Regions from separate parts of the Homo sapiens genome. Here region 2 is linked to region 1. The links come from fine-mapping of genetic effects on gene expression. Tissue or cell type: sun-exposed skin. Region 1 holds a variant in brackets; the other region holds the start of a gene. All regions are shown on one strand. Distances are from middle to middle.

Region 1 (4,399 bases):
GTTTCCCCATAGCTGACAGGGAAGGAGTTGGCCATGGCCTCTATTGCATTATCCATTGTTCATTCCCATAAAAACAAAGGGATATCTTTCAATATCTAGGCAATGCAAAAACCTTGCCTTCCAAATAAGGTCTAACCTCTCTGATTCAACTTATCAAATAGCTAGCTCTACAGCCAAGGGTAAAACAAAGAGACCTCAGCTTTGGGCTGCAGGATTCAGCTTCCCAGATGGGAGGTGAGAGCTTGCTGGGCAAGTTCCTCCTCCATCTCCCACTAGTTCACTTTGACCTTCCTTTGATGGTCAAACCCATTTCTCCCAACCACCAGCATGATTCTGATCACTGTTTGGGTCAACCTGCTGACTCCTTCTCCACTTGGTCCCCTGCAAGAAAGCAGTGTGAAGCCTCTGGGCTTGTTGATTCAATAATCATCTTTATACTATACTTACTTAGGAAAAAAATGTCTTTGTGAGAAAAGACAGACAACAGACACCATGCCTGATACAGCGTCAGAAAGAAGCACTGTTTATTCAACTGACTTGATTAGTGAGTGCCAGACAGCTATTAGAACAAAAATCATGTTTTGGGGCAACAAAATCATGCTTTGGGTCTATTTGTGTCATGGCAAGCCTCCACAGAGTACCCAGATAATGCTTGTTATCGTCACCCATATTAGCCAAATGTTTGGATAAATAAAGATGTTGTATGAAATTCCCTATCTGTTGCTTTAACATAAATTCACATGGAGTGGTACACTGGTGAGTCATGTTCCATTTCATGGCTATATGGTTTCCATGGCCAAAAAAATGAGAAGAGGGCTTCCTTGGGCTGGGAATCTGTGTAAGAATGTGCTTGCTTAATCTGCTGCCCTCCTGTTTGCCTCCTCTGTGTACATACACCAGGTCCACCCCCAAGCCTATGGTTCATTGCACATTAGGTGACCTAATCCTTGAGTGGTTGCTGGAATTGTCCACCTGGGGCTAGTGTTTACTCTAAATAGACCCACTACACACACAGGTCAGAAGCCAACACAAGTGAGCCTTGGGCATGCCCATCCCGTTGACAGCCGCTTTCTTAGATCATCTACCTTTGTTTCCACTAGGCTCTGACTCCTTGCTCCATTTTGGTGTCTAGCTGGCTTGAAACCCTTTGGGCTTTGTGTCTTGTTCCCAGGCCCTGGTTGAGTATGATCTAATTCTGTGTCCTTGCATTTGACTGTCAGCAGTGGGCTGGTACCAGCCCTGAAGCTCCCTTGTAACCATACCCCAGCCTATCAGCATCAGTGAGGCCCCTCCAACTCTCCTACTGGACAAGTTCTGGTTTCCCTCATGGACGAGGGTTGAACAAAAATGAAAGATAAGTCAGTTGTTATGACTAGAAAAAGTGATTACCAGGCCCTCCCTAGAATCCCACCTCTTTCAGAGATATCCAAGTACAACACAGAGAACCAGAAGTGGCCAATTCATTTTGCCAATCAGGCTACATAGACTCATGAGTCACCTAAGATAGACACACCTTTTGAAAAACAGCTGCAAACAGACCTGGAACAAACACTTTCTTTTGCTGAGAGCAAATAAAAAGATTACGTTAGATGGATCTAGAAACATTTCTTTTATTTTTTTGAGATGGAGTCTAGCTCTGTCACCCGGGCTGGAGTGCAGTGGCATGATCTCAGCTCACTGCAACCTCCACCTCCCAGGTTCAAGCGATTCTCCCCCTTCAGACTTCCGAGTAGCTGGGATTACAGGTGCCCACCACCACACCCAGCTAATTTTTGTATTTTTTTTAGTAGAGACAGGGTTATACCATTTTGGTCAGGCTGGTCTCGAACTCTGACCTCAGGTGATCCGCCTGCCTCAGCCTCCCAAAGTGCTGAGATTACAGGCTGAGTCATCACTGACAATACTAGGAACATTTCTAAGATTCAAGGAAGAATCAAATAATCCAGTTCTTAAAAAGGCTTGGATGCAGCTGAAATTCACAAACAGCTAAAACCAGGAGCTACATCTCTGCCAGTCTCTGCTTCTTCCTACAGGAGGTCAAGTTCCTACTCATCTCTAAAGTCCAGCTTTCTCTTCACAGTTGAAAACCTGGCCACCAACAACTCCTGGCTATTTCTTTTTTTTTCTTTTTTTTCTTTTCTTTTCTTTTTTTTTTTTTTTTTTTTTTTGAGACGGAGTCTCGCTCTGTTGCCCAGGCTAGAGTGCAGTGGCACAATCTTGGCTCACTGCAACCTCCACCTCCCACCTTAAAGCGATTCTCCTCCCTCAGCCTCCTGAGTAGCTGGGACTACAGGTGCCTGCCACCACGCCCAGCTAATTTTTGTATTTTTAGTAAAGACAGGGTTTCACCATGTTGGCCAGGCTGGTCTCGATCTCCTGACCTCATGATCCACTCACCTCGGTTTCCCAAAGTTCTGAGATTACAGGCGTAAGCCACCATGCCCAGCCTAGCTTCTGGCTATTTCATCTTGCAGGTTCATCCACCGGAGAGAGGACCTCCACCCCCGCTCTCCTCTAGTCAGCCATCCTAAACCCTCAGAAGGAGCCATTGGTCCACCTTGTAATAC[G/A]ACTGCTTCTACTGCAGTCCCTTGATGGGGGCGAAGGTGCAGCACGACATGACAGTCCCAAAGGAAGGGAACTGCTGCAAAGGGCCAGAATAGGTGAGATTTATCACCTCATCTTGGTTCTCAGTTCCACCAATCCCAGCCCCATCCAGCAAAACAAGAATTCCCCTGTTGTGTTCAAGCTATGTCCAAAGATGAAGGCTACAGTCTGTTTTCCACAAACCACTTTTGGAATCCTTACCAAGTATTGGCTTGCAATACAAAGGATCCCTTCTCTATTACTATGTAACTAAAAAAAAAAAAAAATTGAGCTGCCCCATCTGAAAAGTCCCTGTGTCTTAGAAAAAGGCTTTGTTCTGTATTCTGGATGAGGCCAATCCTCAACAAAAGGCAATATAACAGAGAGGTTAACTTCACAGCTTCTGGAGTTAATTTAGGGATCAGTTCAAATCCCTGCTCCAACAGTTATAGGTGTATGACACACAGCCTCGGCTTTACTCTCTATAAATGAAGATAACTGATAGTCACTTCCTGGTGTTGGTATGAGGATAATTTGGGGCAAGGCATGAAGAGCACTTAGCATGGCACCCGGGACACAAAAGACCTTTAATGACACTGGATAGACTTGGTCTTCAGTGATGTCCTCTGCCTTTTTCTGCCATCTTCCCCCTCCTGCCATTCCCCAGGGAATCCAAGGCTCTGCCTCCAGGAACAGATGTTTCCCACCTGTTCCTCTTCCATATGACTTTGCAATGGATCTTCATGAAACATACACTCCCACCCCAATCTAAGACCCTTCATGTCTTGTTAAAACAGTGAAGATAAAGTTAAACTTCCCTAGAGTGGGCCCCAAGGCTACTTTCAATTTGGACCCTGCCTGCCTCTCCTACCTTGCAGTGTCTCCTTAAAAAAATCTCACCATGCTAGATCACTTGCTATTTCTCAGATATGTCATGCTCTTTTACCACAATGCATGACTGCAAACACTGTCCCCTCTTCCTGGAAAGCCCCTTCCCTGGCTAGCTCCAACTAGCCTAACCAGTTTTCATGATGTTTGTGATCAGGGGATTCCCAGAAACTTTTGCTGACCCCAACCCCCATTTCGAGTTAGACAAGCTTCCTCTGGCTCCATTCATGCCCACGTTTCCCTCTATCAGAGTCCTTATTACACTGTATTTGCTTGTATGTCTTTGTTATTAAATTCTGCTCTTCTTGAGAACAAGACTACATTTCCAGCATGAAGCACAGAGCCTGGCATAAAGGTAATGTTCAATAAAGTGTGATTGTCTGAAACACCAATGAGTATATTTAGGAAGCCATGTGTCCTGGTAAGAATGAAGATGAAATGTACAGTCCTTTTCCTCTTGTAGCTAAGTGAGTCACTGGGTACAAAACCCATGACCTTGCCCACAACACTCCAACTGGCACTTTCAGCTGCTTCATGGGAAACAGAATTCAACACTGCATGTAAAATACTGGATTTTAAATCCAGAAGCCTACCTGCAAAGTCCCTCTTTCTTGTGATCTTGGTCAAAATGCTTAGCCTTGTTTGTCTTGCCTATGAACAATTTTTTTTAATACTTGGCTATAGAAAATAAATACAATTATGCCTATAAAATTAAAAAGTATCTTTGATGTTTTTTTCCTACATGGCATTGTCATGGCTGCTATTGAAAAGATGACAATTATCCCAACCTCTAAGCCAAAGTTAGTCCTTGTTCCTGAATACCATCAAGTCATTGTCTGTTACAAGGAAACACTAGACATATTTTGTGCTTTTCTGGTGTCTGAGTATTGCATCTCAAGTGGAGGCCTGGGTCTTTTGTATATGTCTT
Region 2 (4,399 bases), 78 kb after region 1:
GCTGGTCTCAAACTCCTGACCTCAGGCGATCCACCCACCTCGGCCTCCCAAAGTGTGGGGATTACAGGTGTGAGCCACAGCACCCAGCCCTAGATGTTTTAAATGGAATATTTGGTGTCCCAAACCTAGATTACAATCTGAAGAAGAGTAGAAACAGACCTCTGTATAAACCAACGTAAAACTGAAGCCAATCTCAGTTGCTGGGTCAGGGTTGAAATGTCATGATCTCCCAGCTGTGAGCAATGTTTGAGATAGTCCAGGTTAATCCCTGCCTTTTAGAAAGGAAGAAAGGAAAGCCTGGCCACTAGCTCCACATCACCCCTAAAGGTAATAACAAACCAGGACCCAGGGCTAATATTTGTTTCTTGAGATTTAAACTTTTTCTGAGTGTGTTTGGATTTTTTATATAAGTTATAATTATAAATATCCTGACATAGATTCTTTCCTTCACACTCAGCCTCTGTCTTTTACTCGCTTGGGTGATCCCCAAGTCAGAAACTGAGGGTAATGGCTAATATTTGTTTCTTGAGCTTTAGACTTTTTCTAGTGTGTTTGGATTTTTTACATAAGTTATAATTATAAATATCCTGACGTAGATTCTTTCCTTCACAAAAGCAGAGAACAGCTAAGATCACCCAGTGAGTAAGAGACAGAGGCTGAGTTACTACACAGTGTGAGGGTGATAGCAAGAGTTGGAAAAAAAAAAGATGGATTTTTTTTTAAACTTCCTTGAAAATAGTGGTAGGATACACAATATTGAAGGAGGAGAACAAAGTTAGAGGACCGACACTATCTGACTGCAGGAGTTACTATAAAGTTGCAGCAACCAAGACAGTGTGGCATTGGCAAAACAATAAACGAAGAGCTGGGCGCGGTGGCTCACGCCTGTAATCCCAGCACTTTGGGAGGCCAAGACGGGTGGATCACTTGAGGTCAGGAGTTCGAGACCAGCCTGGCCAACATGGTGAAACCCTGTCTCTACTAAAAATACAAAAATTAGCTTGGCCTGGTGGTACACACCTGTAATCCCAGCTACTCAGGAGGCTGAGGCAGGAGAACTGCTTGAACCCAGGATGTGGAGGTTGCAGGGAGCCGAGATTGCACCACTGCACTCCAGCCTGGGTGACACAGCGAGACTCCATCTCAAAAAAAAAGAAAAAAAAAAAAGGATAAACAAAGAGATCAATGAAACAGAATAGAGATCTCAGAAACAGACCCATATAAATATAGTCAATTGATGTTTGACCAAAAAAACAAAGGCAATACAATGGGGAAAAGAAAATCTTTTCAAAAAATGGTACTGGGACGAGACATTTATATTCAAAAAAAAGGAATGAAGACATAGATCTCATACCCTTCACAAAAAAATTAACTCTAAATAGATCACAGACCTAAATGTAAAACACAAAATGGTAAGACTCTTAGAAAATAACATAGGAGAAAATCTAGATAACCTTGGCTTTGGTAGTGACTTTTTGTTTTGGTTTGGTTTTTTATTATTATTATTTTTTTGAGACAAGGTCTCTGTCACCCGGGCTGGAGTGCAGTGGCGCAACCACAGCTCACTGCAGCCTTGACCTCCCAGGCTCAAGTAATCCTCCCACCTTAGCTTCCTGTGTAGCTGGAACTACAGGCACATGCCACTATGCCTGGCTAATTTTTCTGAAATTATCTGTAGAGATACAGTCTCTCTATATTGCCAGGCTGTCTTGAACTCCTGGGCTCAAGTCATCCTCCCGCCTTGGCCTTCCAAAGTGCTGGGATTACAAGTGTGAGTCACTGCACCCAGCCAGGTTATGACTTTTTTGACATGACACCAAAGGCATGATCTATGAAAGAAAACACTGATAAGCTAGACTTCATTAAAATTAGAAACTTCTGTTCTGTAAAAAATACTTATGATAATATAAAGAAAAGCCACACACTGGGAGAAAATATTTGCCAAAGATGTATTTGATATGGGGCTATTATCCAAAACATAAATAAAACTCTTAAAACTCAACAGTAAGGAAACAAACAACCAATTAAAAATGGGCCAAGACATTAAGAGAGAGTTCACCGCAAAAGACATACAGGTGGCAAATAAGCATACGAAAGATGCCCCACGACGTATGTCATCAGGAAAATGCAAATTAAATCAACAATGAGATACCACCTACACACCCTTTAGAACAGCCAAAATCCGGAACACTGATGTAAGGTACCTGGAAGTGCTTCGGTCAAGGAATAGTCTGAGGCGGGTATCCAGGCCTGCACGAGTCAGCAAGTTTGGCACGCAGGCGCACACCTCCACTTGTTATATAAACTGTTTGTGTAAGTTCATACTTGACTTGGAGCCACAGTTGTCTGTAAAAGGTATAACTGCCCTGTTAACACTGCGCACCAGACACATGGCTCTGGGGCTCGGCTCGCCTGAAATGGCTTGTCATGGTAGGCGCGCAGGCGCCCAGAGAAAGAGCGAGCGAGTCAGAGCTGTCCGTCTGAGCCAGGACACAGCTCAGCTCACTCACTCCCAGAGAGAGAAAGAGTTAAGCTGCTCACCCTGAAGGCAAGGGAGAGCCGGCCACGCAGCTGTGTGTGGGAGCCGCCAGACTAAGCAGCCGAGACAGGGCGGACAGTGTGAGAGAAAGCTGTTGATAAGAGCTGCTGCTGAATAAAGTCATCTTTCAACTGCCTACAGCCCCCCGAGTGTTCTTTCTGCTCATCCAGCCACTCCCTTCGGACTCAACATAACATGTGGTGTAGTCATGAACCTGACAACTGACAACATCACATGCTGGCAAGGATGTGGAGCAAAAGGAACTCTCATTCATTGCTAATAGGAATGCAAAGCAGTACGGCCACTTTAAGGATAGATTGGCAATTTCTTACAAAACTAAACATGCTGTTACCATACGATGTAGTAATCATACTCTTTGGTTTTAACCCAAAGAAGTCAAAAATGTATGTCCACACAAAAACCTGCACATGGGTGTTTATAGCAGCTTTATTCAAAATTGCCAAAACTTAGAAGCAACCAAGATTTCCTTCAGTAGGAGAACGGATAAATGAAACTGTGGTACTTTTAGTCAATGGAATATTACTCAGCACTGAAAAGAAATGAGCTATCAAGCCATGAAAATACATGGAGGAAACTTAAATGCATATCACTAAGTGAAAGAAGCCAATTTGAAAAGGCTACATACTGTATGATTCCAACTATATGACAACATGGAAAAGGCAAAACGATGGAAATGGTAGAAAGATCAGTAGTTGCTAGGGGTTAGGGTGGAGGGAGGTATGAATAGGCAGAGCACAGAAGATTCTTAGGCCAGTGAAAATACTCTGTATGATGGTTTAATGGAAGATACATGCCATTATAAATTTGTCCAAACTAACAGAAGGTACAACACCAAGAATAAACCCTAATGTAAACTATGGACTTTGGGTGATAATGATGTGTCAATGTGGGTTATCAATTGTGACAAATGTACCACTCTGGTGGAAGGGACGTTGATAAGAGGGTGGCTATGTATGTGGGGGGCAGGGAGGATGTGAGATATTTCTGTATCTTCTGGTTAATTTTTCTGTGGACTAAAACTACTTATAAAAATAATGTCAGCCAGGCGCAGTGGCTCACGTCTGTAATCCCAGCACTTTGGGAGGCCGAGGAGGGCGGATCTCGAGGTCAGGAGATTGAGACCATCCTGGCTAATGCGGTGAAACCCCATCTCTATTAAAAATACATAAGTTTTTAGGCATGGTGGCAGGTGCCTGTAGTCCCAGCTACTTGGGAGGCTGAGGCAGGAGAATGGCGTGAACCCAGGAGGCGGGGCTTGCAGTGAGCCGAGATCATGCCACTGCACTCCAGTCTGGGTGACAGAGCGAGACTCCGTCTCAAATAATAATAATGTCTATTTTTTTAAGTTTCTTTAAAAAGAAATACGCAAAGGACAAAGCAGGGGCCCCTGAAGTTTCATCACTTAGAGCAGTGGTCTCCAAACTACTGTGATCACACAGACCATTAGGAAATAAGTTTGCACACCTTCCTTCAATGCATGTATACTGTATTTATTTATAATTTTTAAAAAATAATTGTAGAATCATGGGGCTACCTTTTTTTATACAGAGAGTACAGTTGCTAGACAGATAAGGACTGCTATATTTCTCTTATTCAAAGGGATGTTTTTTCTCTTCTCAAATAAAAACTGACATGAGTCGGGCTAGTTAAGCAATTTCATCTTTTCTCCGGTTACAGATCTGATTTCATAAGACACAGTGATCACCTCTTCTCTGACAGGCATTGAAGAGAACACACTAATAAGTCGAGCCACTCTGCAGAACGCCACGGCCCACGTTTTGCTTGCTTTTTGTTTCCATCTAGACTTCTTTTGTGTTAAATGCCCCTCACACTTTTTCT

Which allele goes with the higher level. Alleles are on the strand shown, and positions count from the first base shown. SD is a standard deviation of normalised expression in the study named.
For the expression in sun-exposed skin of the gene that starts at base 2,498 in region 2, allele G in region 1 goes with a higher level than allele A (moderate effect, 0.49 SD a copy in GTEx).

What was found. PIP is the estimated chance that this variant, and not a neighbour inherited with it, causes the effect. A credible set is the group of variants that fine-mapping cannot tell apart.
Region 2: LINC02613 starts here. The variant in region 1 is the best candidate, but not a certain one, in a credible set for the expression of LINC02613 in sun-exposed skin (GTEx, PIP 0.89).

The regions. Positions count from the first base shown.
Region 1 is chr2:38,435,461-38,439,859 of GRCh38, forward strand. No RefSeq gene overlaps it. Among named protein-coding and RNA genes, the nearest start is that of LINC01883, 6.4 kb to the left of the region's middle. RefSeq lists enhancers at 787-1,081, 3,479-3,728, 3,749-3,798 and a silencer at 787-1,081. The variant G/A (reference allele first, on the strand shown) is at 2,568.
Region 2 is chr2:38,513,243-38,517,641 of GRCh38, forward strand. LINC02613 (long intergenic non-protein coding RNA 2613) reads right to left here and starts at 2,498. Exons shown (of 5, transcript NR_110259.1): 1 at 2,205-2,498.